Homo sapiens: one gene and its partners. Changing the gene in region 3 together with the main gene of any one other region gives a genetic interaction. Each region holds a gene or a part of one and is shown on either strand. Other genes may lie near its edges.

What was found.
Region 1: changes in RPL35 (region 3) and SF3B1 together harm fitness less than expected from each alone (positive genetic interaction), as found in Homo sapiens cells (one large-scale study listed by BioGRID).
Region 2: changes in RPL35 (region 3) and CCT8 together harm fitness less than expected from each alone (positive genetic interaction), as found in Homo sapiens cells (one large-scale study listed by BioGRID).
Region 4: changes in RPL35 (region 3) and WDR36 together harm fitness less than expected from each alone (positive genetic interaction), as found in Homo sapiens cells (one large-scale study listed by BioGRID).

Annotation. Positions count from the first base shown.
Region 1 is NC_000002.12:197,424,957-197,428,528, reverse strand, and holds part of SF3B1 (splicing factor 3B subunit 1), read left to right. Parts: intron 1-3,572. UniProt on the Homo sapiens protein: Component of the 17S U2 SnRNP complex of the spliceosome, a large ribonucleoprotein complex that removes introns from transcribed pre-mRNAs.
Region 2 is NC_000021.9:29,070,777-29,075,037, reverse strand, and holds the start of CCT8 (T-complex protein 1 subunit theta), read left to right. Parts: upstream 1-1,389; 5' UTR 1,390-1,447; coding exon 1,448-1,507; exon of another isoform or gene 1,508-3,083; coding exon of another isoform or gene 3,084-3,086; intron 3,087-4,261. UniProt on the Homo sapiens protein: Component of the chaperonin-containing T-complex (TRiC), a molecular chaperone complex that assists the folding of actin, tubulin and other proteins upon ATP hydrolysis.
Region 3 is NC_000009.12:124,858,481-124,863,999, reverse strand, and holds the start of RPL35 (large ribosomal subunit protein uL29), read left to right. Parts: upstream 1-2,042; 5' UTR 2,043-2,087; coding exon 2,088-2,090; intron 2,091-2,444; coding exon 2,445-2,581; intron 2,582-3,735; coding exon 3,736-3,817; intron 3,818-5,519.
Region 4 is NC_000005.10:111,102,348-111,105,919, forward strand, and holds part of WDR36 (WD repeat-containing protein 36), read left to right. Parts: coding exon 1-52; intron 53-1,438; coding exon 1,439-1,571; intron 1,572-1,829; coding exon 1,830-2,005; intron 2,006-2,349; coding exon 2,350-2,470; intron 2,471-2,947; coding exon 2,948-3,013; intron 3,014-3,572. UniProt on the Homo sapiens protein: Part of the small subunit (SSU) processome, first precursor of the small eukaryotic ribosomal subunit.

The sequences.
Region 1 (3,572 bases), on a different chromosome or scaffold from region 3:
ATTATAGGAATACTTACACACCAGGCTGTAACTTAGTGTTGGTTTTGAAAATACGGAGTTAGAGACAACATTGTTATTCCCAGAGATAAAAAATTTGAAGTGGAATTTTACAAACCTTGGCTGGCATGGATAGGGGAGAGAAAAATTTGGAAAATTACTTTTAATTACTTCTACAGATTACCTATTTATTTATTTACTTACTTATTTAGAGGCAAGGCCTGGCTCTAACACCCAGGCTAGAGTGCAGTGGTGTGATCTCAGCTCACTGCAACCTCCGCCTCCTGGGCTCAAGCCATCCTCTGACCTCAGCCTCCTGAGTATCTGGGACTACAGGTGTGCACCTGTAGTGACTAATTTTTGTATTTTTGTCTAATTTTTGTAGAGACAGGGTTTCATCATGTTGCTTAGGCTGGCCTTGAACTTGTGAACTCAAGTGATCTGCCTGCCTGGGCATCCCAAAGTGCCCAGCCTCATTACCTTTTAATTAATTAATTAATTAATTAATTAATTTGAGACGGAGTCTTGCTCTGTCGCCTAGGTTGGAGTGCAGTGGTGCGATCTCGGCTCACTGCATCCTCTGCCTCTTGGGTTCAAGCAATTCTCTGACTCAGCCTCCTGAGTAGCTGGGATTCCAGGCACCCACCACCACACCTGGCTAATTTTTATATTTTTAGTAGAGATGGGGTTTCACCATCTTGGCCAGGCTGATCCTGAACTCCTGACCTCGTGATCCACCCGCCTCGGCCTCCCAAAGTGCTGGGATTACAGGCGTGAGCCACCATGCCCGGCCCAGATTACCTTTTATGAAATATTTTAACATGCAGAAGAGAATAGGACAAAATATAATGAACACTAACCCACTGCTCAGCTTTATCAGTTCTTCATTTTCTGCCGTATTTTTTCCCACCTTTTTATTTATTTTGAAAACGAAACCTCAGACACAAAGTTACCTTATTTATGAATGTCATGGTAATAATTTGTTTGCTCATAAATATTTGGGTATGTTATATTTGGTATTTTAGCACATAGTTTATTAAGAAATTTCTGAGTTTTTAGTTCTCTGAATTGCATAATAAGCTGCTGAGTTTTATGGAATCTGACGGCTTAATTTTATGGATCACATGGTGTATGTGTAAATGTGCTGCAGTTTGCAGTGTGTTAACAAAGCCCATTAAGCTGTTTGGACTTTATATCTATAGTTTCCAGCAGACAGAAAACAATGCCTGATTTGCATATAAACATTTAATTGTACTGCCTATAAGAAGTTCAGTAATATACTCACCTTAGGATTAATTAACTACAAACAGCTGCCTAGCCCCAGGAGATTTTGGGCTGGGTAATTTTGTTACTAAATTTTAATAAGAACCTAGTCATGATTTACATAGATTTCATACCAACACTATTTCAGTACTTTATGAACCTTTGTAATTGGAAAACTCTGATGCTAATCAGCAGGTACATAAAATCAATAGTTAAAATTCAGTAGCTGAAATTAGTTCCAGAATAAGTGTTATCCAAATGAGAAACTAGTTGCTGAAACTTCAGGATGGAAAAGTTGTTTAGATGGAAAATAAGAGAGATGCCTGATAAGGGGGAAAAAGCAAGTTGCACAATATGTGTAGTGTGCAGTTTTTATAAAACAGCACCCCTTTCCTGTTTTTTAGTTGTGTATGAGGTAGAGAAAAGTATAAAATGATGCTCTAAATTGGAAAATTTGGTAGGGGTGGGCTGGGGTTGGAAATGGGAGGGGTGAAGGGCCAGGTAAAATAGTTTCCTAGGGTGTTTGTTAATGATGCAGAATCCTGGGCTTCACAGCCTGAGTTGGAGTTTCAGAGTTAGTGTATCCAAGACCTAAGGTTCTACCTTTGTAACAGGTGCACCAGGTCATTTCTTTGTAGGTGGTCCTTATACTAGACTAATGCTGTAGAGGAGATTGCAGACTATTTCTCCTGATTCATCCATTTGTTTCTTACCTAAATCCTCATGGAAGTAGCATTTGTGGTCCTTTTACAAAAACCTATTTAGGTAAAAGTGATAAATGCACCTGTGGTTTAAAAAAAAAGCCTGAAGCTGGGCGTGGTGGTGGGCATCTATAATCCCAACTATTTGGGAGGCTGAGGCAGGAGAATGGCTTGAACCTGGGAGGCGGAGGTTGCAGTGAGCCGAGATCCAGCCACTGCACTCCAGCCTGGGCAACAAGAGCAAAACTCCGCCTCAAAAAAAGAAAAGAAAAGAAGATGCCCGAAGGGGGTGGGAGTGGGGCAAATGTAGATTAAATTTTTCAAAATATGAAACTACAAACAGAAACAAAAGTAGAGATCATAGTAAAAAGAACCACCCTGCTCATGTGAGGATATTTCTGGCTGCCTGGGCTGCTATAATGGTTTGGGGACAAAGTAACATCTGTGCATGTAGTGGTGCTGTGTAACACAACACACTATAATAATTTTGAGATCCGATCACAACTGGGGCTGCTAAACTCAGCATTAAAACTATTCTATCATTTTGAGTTTCTTTCTTTCTGTTTGTTTCTGAGACAGTCTCTCTCTCATCCAGGCTGGAGTGCAGTGGCAGCAATCGTGGCTTACTGCAGCCTTGACCTCCTGGGCTCAAACAGTCCTCCCACCTGAGCCCCCTAAGTGGCAGGGGACTATAGGTTTGCCACCATACCTGGCTAATTTTAGTATTTTTTGTAGAGATAGGGTTTTGCCATGTCGCCCAGGCTGGTTTTGAACTCCTGGGCTCAAGTGATCCGCCCACCTCAGCCTTCCAAAGTGTTTGGATGACATGCGTGAGCTACCGCGTCTGCCTCCAGTTTGTGAGACGTGCTCCTGTTCCTTTCTTATGTGGAAATGTGACCCAGCCGTGCCTTAGACTAGATAAGGACATTTTGTTATCCTGCACATCTATCTTGAGGAACTATAGAGGGCTTTCTCCCTTAGCTGGGGGGGTGGGAGGTTTTGCAAATACAGGATGCTATTTGAATCTTTATCTTTTGATTCATGCAGCTAGCAATTGAGCTTTTTTATTTTTTATTTGATTTATTTATCTATTTATTTTTTGAGACGGAGTTTCGCTCTTGTCGCCCAGGCTGGAGTGCAATGGCGTGATCTCGACTTACTGCAACCTCCACCTTCCGGGTTCATGTGATTCTCCTGCCTCAGCCTCCCGAGTAGCTGGGATTACAGGCGCCTGCCACCATGCCCGGCTAATTTTTGTATTTTTAGTAGAGACGGGGTTTTAGCACATTGGCCAGGCTGGTCTTGAACTCCTGACCTCAGGTGATCTGCCCACCTCGGCCTCCCGAAGTGCTGGGATTGCAGGTGTGAGCCACTGCGCCCGGCCTAATTTTTATTCATTTATTTATTTATTTGAGATGAGTTTTGCTCTTTGCCCAGGCTAAAGTGCAGTGGCACGTGATCTCGGCTCACTGCAGCCTTGGCCTCCCGGGTTCAAGCAGTTCTGCCTCAGCCTCCTGAGTAGCTGGGACTAGAGGCGTGCGCCATTACACCTGGCTAACTTTGTATTTTTACTGGAGAGGAGGTTTCACCATCTTGGCTAGGCTGGTCTCG
Region 2 (4,261 bases), on a different chromosome or scaffold from region 3:
GCCTCAGGAAGCTGACAATCAAGGTGGAAGGTGAAGGGGAAGCAGACACATCCTACAAGGCTGGAGGAGGAGGAAGAGACAGAGTGGGGAGGTGCCACACACTTTTAAACAACCAGGTCTTATGAGAAGTCACTCACTATCACAAGAACAGCTGGGGATTATAATTCCACATCATATTTGGGCAGGCAATTCAAACATATCAGTGGCATTTACATTTTTGCAAAAATCCAAACCATATCAGTGGCATTTACATTTTTGCAATTTTTTTTTTTTTTTGAGACAGGGCCTCACTCTTGCCCAGGCTGGAGTGCAGTGGCATGATCTCAGCTCACTGCTGCCTCAACCTCCCAGGCTCAAGCAGATCCTCCAACCTTAGCCTCCCAAGCAGCTGAGACTACAGGTGCATGCCACCAAGCCAAAGGGATTTATATTTATCTATAAATTCATATATAAATCAGATATATTTATATAAAATGTGTATATTATATATATAAATCAGATAAATAAATATGTATTTATATCTGATCTTAAAAGAGTAAAAGGGATTTATATTCCCAGGAAGAAGTAGAAAAGAGGAATATAGATAGTGGTTAAGAACCGGCATTTTGCAATAAGTCTGATCTAGATAGGAATTCTAGCTTTAATATTTACTAGCTCTGTGATCTTGGGAAAATTATTTACAGTTTGTGAACTTCAGTTTCCCTTCTACAAAATAGAGACAGTACCATTTAATTTTTAATTTTTAATGGTATCGTCTCCATTTTATGGAAGGAAAACTAAATGGTATTTTAACCGACAATTCATTAATTTTTAAGACTGACCATTAACAGAGATACTGCATGTAAAGCAGATCACACAGAATATGGCACACTTGAGCACTTGATGTGTACTACATTACTCTTAGTGACGACTTTAATTATCGTGCGCATTCCCAGCGCTTCCTATGGTGCCCAACACAGAGCGGACGCCTAGAGACAATTTTGGGGGATGGGGCAGATGCTCTGCCTCGGGAAAAAAAAAGCACACCTGCCCTGACGTTGGTGGCTGGGTCTGGAAGATACGTGGAAATTAAGCTAAGGATGTGTGGCTTCCAGATCAAAAACCGCAAAAATCTAACGCCGTGACTACTGACTACGGTCAGAGAGCACAGACTGGAGCAACCTCTCACGGCCTGGGCTGTCTGCGCGTGCGTGAGCCAGAAACCCGAGGGGCTCCCTGGGCCCGCCCTATCGATCGACCCGATCGGGGATCGTCAGCTTGGTTCTGGCCACAGAGGTTGCTCTTCTCGCGATGCTTCAGACCTGGCGGCAGGGAAAGGGTGGGCTAATTGGAGAGCCAGGAAGAGCGTGAGGCGGCCCCACGCTGCTTTCCCAGAAGGCTGTGCGTGCTCCTCGCTTCCTCCGCGGTCTTCCGAGCGGTCGCGTGAACTGCTTCCTGCAGGCTGGCCATGGCGCTTCACGTTCCCAAGGCTCCGGGCTTTGCCCAGATGCTCAAGGAGGGAGCGAAAGTAAGGGCTGAAGGAAAGGAATGAGGTGGGAGCGTCAGCATAGGGCTGCGGCGGCCGCGGCGAAGTAGGAGGGCCTACTAACGGGCTGAGCGTGCTGCCCTGGCTCAGCGGCCGGGGGAAGAGAAGATTCCAGAAAGGGAGGTGATTTTGGAAGGGCTCGGCCACCGGAGCCTGCGGGCACTTCTCTTCTTCCGCGACCGGGAGAAGGCCGAGGGATCGGCGGCACGATCGACATTGTACACCTTGAAGGTGGACGGATGTGAAGCCGCGCGTGCGTTTTGCCTCCATCCGTAAATGGGGCTAAGGCCCGTCACCCTTAAAGGAGGTTGTGAGGGTGAAATTGAATAACGTAGATGAAATTGTCTTGAGAACTGCGACGTCGATTATCACATAGCTCGCGAGTTGTAGGATGGGGAAGAACGAGAACTAGCCGATCCAGAGAAGAGAGTGGGAAAAAGGGCCGGGTCTTGGTTGCTTGCTTCCCAGTGAGAAACATACGGCTTTCAGCTTAGTTGACAGAAGCCATGCGTTGTAGCCAAATGAGTTCCGGTCCCAACTTATGTTAGCTGGCTTAATCTAAAATGTAACTTTCTTGGGTTTTGTTTCCTTCGTCTTTAAATTATGGAGATTGGACCAAGAGGTGGTGTCTTTGAGTTCTGTGTAATCTGCAGGATAAGTGATAGAGGGGTGCAGATAACACTTTTGTTTAATGGCCTTTTCTTGAACGTTAGTTCGGTAGCATAGTTTTAAAAAATATCTTACTGCACTATTGATAAATTTGTCTCTTGTGCTATTCAAATTGCATTCCTCTGTGTGTCCTCCAGATTTTGTTAATTCAAGAAATAGATCAGTGTGGTTGAATTTAAGGTTTTATGCGAGGTACGGGGAGCATTAACAGTTTAATAGAACTAGGTTCATGTTTGTAGGATGCACTTTTCAAATAATGTCGGTATAGTAAGTAAATGTCAGGGTTCAAGGTAAATGTTGGTGGAATAATCTTTTGAAAATGATATGGGCTGATTCCCTTGAAAAAATCAGGCTGAGATAATAGCTTCCAATTTGGGTTTTTTTCACTAATACAGTTTTGGAAAACTCGTGTATCACAAAACATTATTTGTCATTCCAGTGCTAGTAGTTTTTTACAGAACACTGAGCTATTTCTTTCAATAAATAGGTACTGAAGGAACTGCAGTGAAAGACAAAAGTCCCATTTGTCGTAGAGTTTATGTCCTTCTAAGGCAGAAATAATGATTAAATAAAAGGAGAATTCCAAATAATGATGAAAGAAACTGCACTATAGTAGAGGATGACAGGAGGTAAAAATGTCTGTAAAAGAAGGATCAGGAATAGACAGAACACTTAGACGTTTAGGGAAGAACTCTTAGCTCAGTGCTTAGTGAGAGAAGCCCCTGAGCCTGGGCTGTTTCCCCCGACCTCTTACTTAGGGGGAAATGCCAGGCTCAGGGACTAACTAGTACAAAGACCCTGAGGAAGGAATGATTTTGACCTGTTTTTTTTTTAAAACAACAACAACAACAACAGGTTGTAGGGCTGAAGCTTACCAAAGAAAGGAAGAATGGTAAGTTCAGAGGAGGAGCCATACAAGGGCCGGGATACGTAGGGCCTTGTTTCCTTGAAAAGGGATTTGCATTTTATCCTAAGCTGGTTGGGAAACCATTGAAGGGTCTTAAGTATGGGAATGAGGGGATCTGATCAAATGGTAGTTTCTCACAGAATGGGGAGTGAGGGGAAGAAGCAAGAGTGTAAGCCAGGAGTTCAGACTTAAGTGTTATTGCTGGAATAACAGTTCTTATTGCTGAAGATGCTTTTAAAGCAGTGGCTATTGGCAGGGGTTGGTGGCTCACACCTGTAATCCCAACACTGGGGAGGCCGAGGTCAGTGGATCACTTGAGGCCAGGAGTTCCTGGCCAACATGGTGAAACTCCGCCTCTCAAAAAAATACAAAAAAAACCAACCTGGTGTGGCGCGCACCTCTAATCCCAGCTACTCAGGAGGCTGAGCCTCCAGAATTGCTTGAACCCGGGAGGCCCAGGTTGCAGTGAGCTGAGATCGTGCCACGATCTCAGCTCACTGCACTCCAGCCTGAGCGATAGAGGAGACTCTCTCTCTCTCAAAAAAGAGTAATGGCTATTAACCTTGGTTTTGGATCACAAAATCATGGCTTGTATTGTAAAGCAGTACTATGTAAATAGAACTTTTTGCAGTGCTGGACATACGCTGTATCAGCGCTGTCCAGTGTGATATTCACTACCCACATGTAGCTACTGGGCATTTGAACTGTGGCTCCTGCAATTGAGGAACTGAATTTTTTAATTTTAATTACTTGAAAGTTTATTTTGATTGCTTTCACTAGCCCCATGTATGTAGCTAGTGGCTACTGTATTGGGCAGCGCTTCTCTAAAGAAATGTTCTCATGCACAGTAGATTAGTGAAATATATCTGAGGACCCAAGTAAACCTCAACTCTAAAAAAGTCCAGTGTAGAATTTGTGAGAATTTTTAGTACCGTGAGCAGTTCGCTTTTCAATACATATACATTGGGATAATGTTGCAATTCAAAAAAAGTATTCAGTCTCTAAACACTTCAGTGGCACATACTTAAAGAACTTCTGGCTTTACAAAAGCCCAGATTCTAACACAATAAGAATATTCCACATTTCAACAGTTAGTTAGAAAATACTGATAAATTCTGGAAAGGTATTCTACTTGAAGTACCTCATACCCTTTCTCTAAT
Region 3 (5,519 bases):
CTTCTAGGTTGGCTGTGGAAATAGACACATAAATGCATCATTTTATTTCAGCCTGTTTGGGGCTAAGGAAAGGATTGCACAGAGGTTGCTACTCATAGGAGATGGGAGAAGTCTCCTTGTGGGTGGTTACAGCTGGTAGTAACAAGAGGACAATCTGGCTTCAACCATAACTCTAAGAGGTGGCATGTCTTTATTAAGGGCAAGGGAGTGGCACTGGAGTGCTGATTAATGCCTACTGGTTGGCAGACATTAATCAGAAAGCCTAAACATGCCCTGCCTTGTGAATTCCCGTTTCACTTTCCGGGCTCTACTGAAGTGTTCCTTCCTCTGGGAACATGAACACCAATGATATTTTGAGCCATTGTTATGCGTCAGATTTCGGGTTAACAGCTTTACAGATATCTCCTCTAATTCTCATAAATGCCTCATTTCACATGTGAGCAAACTGAGACTCAAGAAAGGGGAAGAGATTTCCCAAGAGTCTCAACTACTACCTTGGCAGCAGAGCAAGAATTTGAAACCTGGTCAGGTTCACTTTAAAAAAGGCTGTACTAGCCGGGCGCAGTGGCTCACACCTGTAATCCCAGTATTTTGGGAGGCTGAGGCGGGTGGATCACTTGAGGTCAGGGGTTTGAGACCAGCCTGGCTAAACCTTGTCTCTACTAAAAATACAAAAATTTAGCTGGGTGTAGTGGCACACACCTGTAGTCCCAGTTACTGGGGAGGCCAAGGCAGGAGAATCTCTTGAACCCGGGAGGTGGAGGTTGCAGTGAGCCGAGATCGCGCCACTGCACTCCAGCCTAGGCGACAGAGCCAGACTCCATCTCAAAAAATATATAAAAAATAAAATAAAAATAAAAAAGGCTGTATGGCCAGGCGAGGTGGCTAACCCCTGTAATCCTAGGCACTCTGGGAGGCCGAGGAGGGCGGATTGCTTGAGCCCAGGAGACCACCCTGGGCAACAGCTCTACAAAAAATAAACAAATTAGCCAGGCCTGGTGGCTTGTGCCTGTAGTTTCAGCTACTCGGGAGACTGAGGTGGGAGGGCTGCTTGAACCCGGGAAGCGGAGGTTTTGGTGGGCGGAGAGCGCGCCATGCCTTCCAGCCAGGGTGACAGAGCGAGACCCTGTCTGAAAAAAAAAATTAAAAAATAAAAAAAATAAATAAAGGCTGGGGCCAGGCGTGGTGGCTCACGCCTGTAATCCCAGCACTTTGGGAGGCCGAGGCGAGGGGATCACCTGAGCTGAGGAGTTCAAGATCAGCCTGGGCAACATGGCGAAACCCCGTCTCTACTAAAAATACAAAAAATTAGCCAGGCGTGGTGGTGCATGCCTGTAATCCCAGCTACTCAGCTACTCGGGAGGCTGGGGCAGGAGAATCGCTGAACCCGGGAGGCGGAGGTTGCAGTAAGCCGAGATCGCGACACTGCACTCCAGCCTGGCACCCTGGGCGACAGAATGAAGCTCTGTCTCAAAAAAAAAAAAAAAAAAAAAGGTGTAAATGCTCTTTGCAGTTCCATATACTGCCTCCCCAGAACCTTTATGGAGTTGGATTATAACTGCCTGAGCCCGCCCCTCCCGTCCATCTCGCGCTTTAAATTCCTCCGCGACGTGAGCCTCGGTTAATCGTCTTTGAAAACTCTGGCCCCTCCTCCCGTCAGCACCCCCAGACTACTGGCGCCCAGCTCAGAGTTGCCCAGATTGGGAGATCTGCAAGGTTTCCCGAAGGAATGAATGAACGAATGACTGAATGGACGAATTTGAGTCCTCCGTGTGCCATCTCTGGTAGCTGCCGCCCACGTTGGGCCTCGGTTTCCCCAACTGCGCGCCTACACCGTGACGCCGACCTCGCTATCAGGGGTGCCGTGAATGAGGCGAGCACTACAAGGCGGGGCTCCGGCCCTACCAGGCGGGGCGGGCAGTACCACGGCGTTCCTCGGGGGCGGGGGAGATGAGGCGGAGCCGGGGCTCCCCCGCTGCGGCGCCATTGGCCGCGCCCGCCGCCACCCGGCAGTAGTTGCGGAGGTCAGCCCCGCCTACTTCCTCTTTCCCTCGGAGCGGGCGGCGGCGTTGGCGGCTTGTGCAGCAATGGTGAGAGCTGCGGAATCGGGCGCCATCCGAGCGCTGTGAGGCGCGGGGGTTGGGGAAGGCGGTGCGGGCTGAGCCCGCGGATTCTATCTGCCACCTAGGCCTGTGGGGCGCCGCGCAGAATGGTCTGGCGCCACCACAACCCGCCTCTTCGCTTGGCGCCGGGAGAGGCGCGCGGCCCGGGCCTGGGTTACTCTGCCCAAGGCACGGCCGGCGAGGGAGACTGTCCTGAGCCCTGGTTGGGGCTCCGGCGCACTCGTAGTCGATGGCGAGTCGCGCGCCTTTGGGGGCTGGCCACGCAGGTGAAGGGGATATGGCCCCGCGGCCTGGCTGAGGCACACTCTCTCTTGCGCGCAGGCCAAGATCAAGGCTCGAGATCTTCGCGGGAAGAAGAAGGAGGAGCTGCTGAAACAGCTGGACGACCTGAAGGTGGAGCTGTCCCAGCTGCGCGTCGCCAAAGTGACAGGCGGTGCGGCCTCCAAGCTCTCTAAGATGTAAGTGAGGCGGCCGGATCACAGCCCTCGTGGGTGGGGAGCACGTGTGCATCGGGATCGTCGGAGGATTTCAAAGTTGGCTTAAGGAGCTGGCCGCTTAGATGCCCACTCCGTGCATCCTGGCGCGCATGGGAGACCCGTTGTGTGCTTAGCCTCTTACCTGCCTTGACCTTGCGGTCCTTGTGCCTGGAATGCATCCCCGGAGACCCATCTTAATGCTGCCTTCAAAGCCTACCCGGACCCCTTCCTTCCGCTTCCCACCAACACTTGAGTTTTTAACCCCCTTGGCAGGTGGGTGGCTTGCACCCTGGAGTGGCAGCGTAAGTTATTTTACATGGCTAAGAGTGCGGGAGACTTGTGAAAGGAACATGGGTTTGGAGTTCATCAACCTGGGTACAAAGTCCACTTCTCAAAAAAAAATTAGATGGGTGTGGTGGTACAGGCCTGTAGTCCCAGCTACTCTGGAGGCTGAGGCAGGAGGATCACTTGAGCCCAGGAGTTGGGAGGCTATGATGGGGCCACTGCTCTTCAGTCTGGTTGACAGGTGAGACCCTGTCTCCAAAAAAAAAAAATGGTGGTTGCCCTCTTTGCCCCCAAACAACCTTAGTAGAGGCAGGGGTGGGAGGATTGGACAAGCACAGTTGCACACTGAATCCTCAAAAACCATGTTGACCAGCTGTCTACTAGGTGACTCCCTCATCCTGACATGACTACAAATAACTTCTCCCTGGCTCGTTGTTTGCTTCAGTCTCCTGGCTTGTAGTGACTCCACTTTGCAAATGTCTTGTTTCTCTCTCCTGCAGTTCCCTAAGCTAGCCTGATTGCCTGGTTTGTGGCATGATTCCTTCCCATCAGCTCATTGAAATTGGCATTGGTTGGGTCTTAGCCCTCAGGATAAATTCGTGTTCTGGGATTGAAGGTCTTTTTCTGATCTGCCTCATTTATCCAGCCTGCACTTCCTCATAAAGCCTCTGCTGTCTCTCCCATGCCCCTCTCTTCCCTCCTCAGACCTCACTCCCAGAACGCCTTCCTCCTGAGTGAATATGGATGGGTTGATGGGGGAGGCTGCAGCTATTGCTGCCCTATGTGTGAGTCCTGAGTCTTGGGTAGTGCTATGTGTCTTCCCTATCTTCACTGACATCTCTGTTTTGTAGCCGAGTCGTCCGGAAATCCATTGCCCGTGTTCTCACAGTTATTAACCAGACTCAGAAAGAAAACCTCAGGAAATTCTACAAGGTGAGTCTGCCTGGACATAGGGAGGGTTGGCTGCAGGAAGCCAAGTGCTAGCCGTCCCTGGCCGGGGACATGGTAAAGAGGTTTTTCTTGGTGCGTGGGCTGAGAGTGGTTAGCCTTCCCAATTTGTTGCTGGGCTCACTCTTCTACCAGTGTCTTGCACTGGCACGTGGCTCTGCAGACCACTTCCTCAGGCTGCAGATGTCAAGAATTCATTGGGGCTTGGGGTGTCCTGGCTGGAGACTCAGTTTTTGAAACCAGCCTTCCCAGTTGAGTGGCTTGGGCAGTGATAGGACTGGCTGTTGAAGGTTTTCACTGCCTCTTACTGGCACTGGGTGTCAGTCCCTGCCAGGCACCTGCCATGCTCATTTTTCAGATGAGGGCCCTGAGGCCTAGACACCCACAGTCAATGGCATGATGGGCCCTGGTTCCAAACCTTACCTTGGGGAGGGTCGGCTTTAGTGTTCTGGGAGGTGTGCACAGGTGTCTGGCCCCCTCTTAGTCTTGAATTTTGATAACCATTTTCTGGTCTTGTCCTTAACATTCATCTTATTGGGGTTCAAGCAGAGAAAACTAGGGGGAGACGGTGTGTGCACATGCATCCAATGTATTCTGAAGAATGGGCATAGGTGATTGTGGGGGCTGGCTGGGACTCAGGGCTCAGGTTGAAGCTGCTGTTCCCAGTGGGTACTTGGAGGGAGCCTCAGCCCTGTGCTTAAGACTTACAGCTGATTGGATCGGGCCTTCTGGGATTACCCAGGATAATCTCCCCTAAAGTTACCTGATGAGGGTCTTTAATTTCATCTGCAAAATGGTTCCACATCACTACCCAAATTGTGTTTGAATAACTTGAAGATTTGACACAAGGGAAAAGCAGCCATGGCTGATGAAGTGCCACAGGCCTATAACCCCAGCTACTGGGAGGCCGAGGCAGGAGGATGGCTTGAGCCCAGGAGTTAAAGTGTAGCCTGGGCAACATAGTGAGGCCTCATCTCAAAAAAATGAGAAGGGCCATAGTGTGGCTATGTTAGCTGTTCAGGGGACACTAGCACGTGTGTGGCAAAAGTAAACCTTTAATGTCAGCAGCTACGTGTGTGGCTAGTGGCTGCTCTGTTGGACAGCAGAACTCTAGGGGGTTAGCCAATGTGAAAAGGACGAATGCCCAGCCGATGCCAGCAGGAGTGAGGGATGTGGGAGGACAAAGACTTTCCTGCTTCCAAGTACCCTCCAGGGCTGGCCCTCATTGTCCAGGATCTTTCTGCAGTCCTCTGCCCACCTGCAGGGGCCTGGGGCCCTGTGACCTCAGAATCCCCCATACCATGGGCCACTTGTTACCTGTTCAGTCTTCCCCCACTAGGCTGGGACCCCTGAGCAGGGACTGGGTCAGATCCTTTGCCAAGCCAGCTCCCAGCACAGGGCCCAGTCCTGAAGGGGGCCCAGGGGACCTTTGCAGAACACAGGAGAGACCAGTGAGAGCTGCCATGGTCTAGAACCCCCTGCTGGAGAACAAGTGGGGCAGGAGTGGGAGCCAAGGATGGAAAGACAGATGATGGCTCTGTGACAGCTGTGGGCAGGGGCCCCAAAGCCGGAAGCAGGTGGGGCAAGTGGCCTTGGCCAGCCAGGCCTCTGAGGCTGGACGTTCATACAGGCAGCAGCTGGTGGGCCCTGCATACAGATGGACAGAGTACTGCCTCAGCCCCCAGCA
Region 4 (3,572 bases), on a different chromosome or scaffold from region 3:
ACTTCTATATACATTTCCAGGATGGAAAGTTGGAGTGACAGCTCTTCAGCAGGTTAGTATTTTTCTGTTAAGTCAAAGAGGAACAAAGTTAATAGGAAAATCCTTCAGTTTCAGGAATCAATCATAATTTTAGACGTAAAGACGAAACAATATATAGCTTAGTTTACCTTTAAAATTGTTAGCCTGAGGAAATAGTGTTTTGGAAATGTAAGTTAAAACAAGTAATAATGCCTTTGCCAATAACACTTATTGGAGTCCTTTGTGCTTATAGTTTGACTTAAATCTGTGGTTGCTATGGATCCTTGTTTCTAATCATTTTGCAAGTATATGTAGTCCATTGTCTTGTGTAGACTGGAAATGAGTGTTCAGCAATGCAAGCGGTATTGTAAGTCATGTAGAGAAATTTGTCAAGATGTTGAGATTTATGGTTTGAAGTAATTGGAGCCAAAATCCTAATGTTTGATTCGATGATGGACTATTTAAGAAATAACTGCTTTTTTTTAATGAATCTGCAAAATATGTATAAATAAATGAATGCATGTCTACAGCGAATCTTGTGTTTATATTGGCCACATATGTAGCCACTATACCCTTATCTTTTTCAGTATCCATTGTCTATACTTGCCCAATTTATATGTATTCCTTATCTTCTCTTGCTGTCATCAGCCTAGCTCCACTTTTGCCTATCCAGAAGACTCCATAAGTATCAGAGGATTAGGACCCTTGAGGACAAGGGATTATATCTGTTTTAGTATCTCCAATTTCTACACAGGGTCTCATGCATAGTAGACACTTGATGACAAATTAATAAAACGTGTAGCCTGATTCCATTCTATAATGATATTGGACATTGATCTTTGCTAAAATAGAGAAATTCATAATAGAGCCTGTATGTAAGACTTGTATTATAGACCATTATAACCATAGAATATTAGAACTGGAACAGACTAATTGTAAAACTTTTTTTGCCTTTTCACATGTTTTGTAGGTTTTTCCTACTTTCTTGGATAAGCAATTCTTCACTTCCTTTGTAATTGGTTACATGTTGCCACACATAGCGCAAGCCTTTATGTTTTCTAGTTGTCTCCTTTTTCTGTTTCCATCCAGTCCAGTGATCTGTAGTGATTTTATACATAGCTTTCTTTTTCTGTTGTGGTTGTTTTCTTTCCAAAATCTTACCAGCTAGGTTTTGGGAATGAGGATGGGATGTTGACTGGCAGAATTGAAGCTGGGAAGTAATTTGGAAAAATCATTACTGAATACTTCTATGCTGAATAAAAAAGTATGCTTGAATGGTAATACTTGCTGAGTTTTTCTGCCATCTTTTAGAAGATACTTCATTATTTCTTTTGATAACACCTAATAATGATGCGTATCATCAGGATTATTAAAGCTATTTTGCTTAAGAAAGTAAAAGTTTGAATAATTTAATTTTTAGGCACCAGCCGTGGATGTTGTTGCTATTGGTCTTATGTCAGGTCAAGTTATCATTCACAACATTAAATTTAATGAAACATTAATGAAGTTTCGTCAAGACTGGGGACCCATTACTTCAATTTCATTTCGCACAGGTAACTTTTAACATACTTATTGATAGGAGTTAAGAACACTTAAAATTCATTACTTTAAAAGTCAATTTTTTTTGTCTTCTGGTAGCTTAATCTAATAGAAGTGAATGAATACTGGAGTAAAAGGCAAAGAAATATGAATAGATTATTGGTATATAGTTTTTTTCTAACTTTATGGATTAAAAGGGAAGAGAGAAGAATTCTTGTTTATTTTGGGGGATCTAGAAGTATTTTTCTTAATGTATTTTATTTTAATAACAGATGGTCATCCAGTAATGGCAGCTGGAAGCCCATGTGGCCATATTGGACTCTGGGATCTAGAAGACAAAAAATTAATCAACCAAATGAGAAATGCACACTCTACAGCAATTGCCGGACTGACATTTCTCCATAGAGAGCCACTTCTTGTCACAAATGGCGCTGACAATGCTCTTAGGGTATTATGATTATTGTTAACATCTTCCTGGCTCATCTAACTTACCCTTTGGGTTATTACAAGCTTGTTTTAATGTATCAGCTTTCAACCTAGAAGATGAAAGGAATATGGAATGAGATATTGGTATAGATGAAACAAAAAGCACAGCAGGTGACATGATTGCAGTGAAGCGGGAAAGAATTACAGTTTATTTCTCCCCCAATACCCACTCCCTCCCTTGTAGCTCCAGAGTCAGTGGCTTAGCAAGCACTACTCAATACCAGTTGATTTATGTAGGGGGTGATTTGACTGCTTGCAGATCAGATGGAACATTGTAGAAGAACTGACGTTTTTATTTCTTGGCAGATATGGATATTTGATGGTCCTACAGGTGAAGGCCGACTTTTGAGATTCAGAATGGGTCATAGTGCTCCTCTTACCAATATCAGATATTATGGACAGAATGGACAGCAGATTCTAAGTGCAAGTGAGCTTCTGCTTCATACTATTAGTTTATTTCAGCAAGTATTGAGATGTGGGTGCCCAGTATGAGGTTTGATATTTACACATACTTAGATTCACATATCTCTTTGAGTGACTTAGAAGTCTGGGTAAAACTAAGAGTCCTTTTTGTCTACTTGAGAAGCACTATAGATGTTATTATCTATGCTTAATGTGTCCTTCTATTTACTAATCCTCAGAGACAGAATGGTTAGATTCTAAAAATTCTGTTAGTCTGCTGAAAATTATTAGTACCTCATTTTCATTTTATCCTTTGTTCTTACTAAATGGCATTCTATAAAAAGTTGAATATTTTAATGAAGTAGTTGCAATCTGGTTTTCCCTTTAAAGTGTCCCAAACTGTAACTTCAAGATTTTCAAATTGAATTTTATAAAATTTGTGATTCACATAGTCCCTTGTTTTAATGAAGCTTGATTAGGGATTTTCTGTGTATATCAACAGGTCAAGATGGAACTCTTCAGTCATTTTCCACGGTACATGAAAAATTCAATAAGAGCTTGGGACATGGTAGGTCCTCTACAAGACAAAATAAGCTGGTCACGAAAGAAACATTTCAACATTCTATGAAACAACTGGAGGAAGTTTCATCAATGCATTTTATTTTTTCTTGGATGAACTAGATAAACATGTATGGAAGAGGTAGTAAGATTCCTAGCATCAAAGTTGCTATAGAAGTGATTGAGGTTCTGCTATAAGGTTATTGAAAAAAGTTAGACATCTTGGGTGGTAAAAACATACTGCTGCCACCCAAAAGATGTTCATGGCCTCACTTGAGCTATCTGTAGAGTGCACAGTTTTTAAAATGGAAGGTAGCTTAGAGAAAGCATCAAAGTAAGTGGCATCCAATATTTTTGCTTTAAAGCAATCATTTATTCTCTTTCCCTTTTCATGGTTTCCAGCCTTTGAAAGATTTTGTTTATTAAACAACAAAATCTTACTTGGTTTTATGATTACTAATTTTTAAGTTACTATCTTATACTGTTCATGCATGTATATAAATTTTAAGATTATTTTTAACAATATCTAAAATAACTTTTCTTAGAATTAAAAAATAACAGTGGTAATA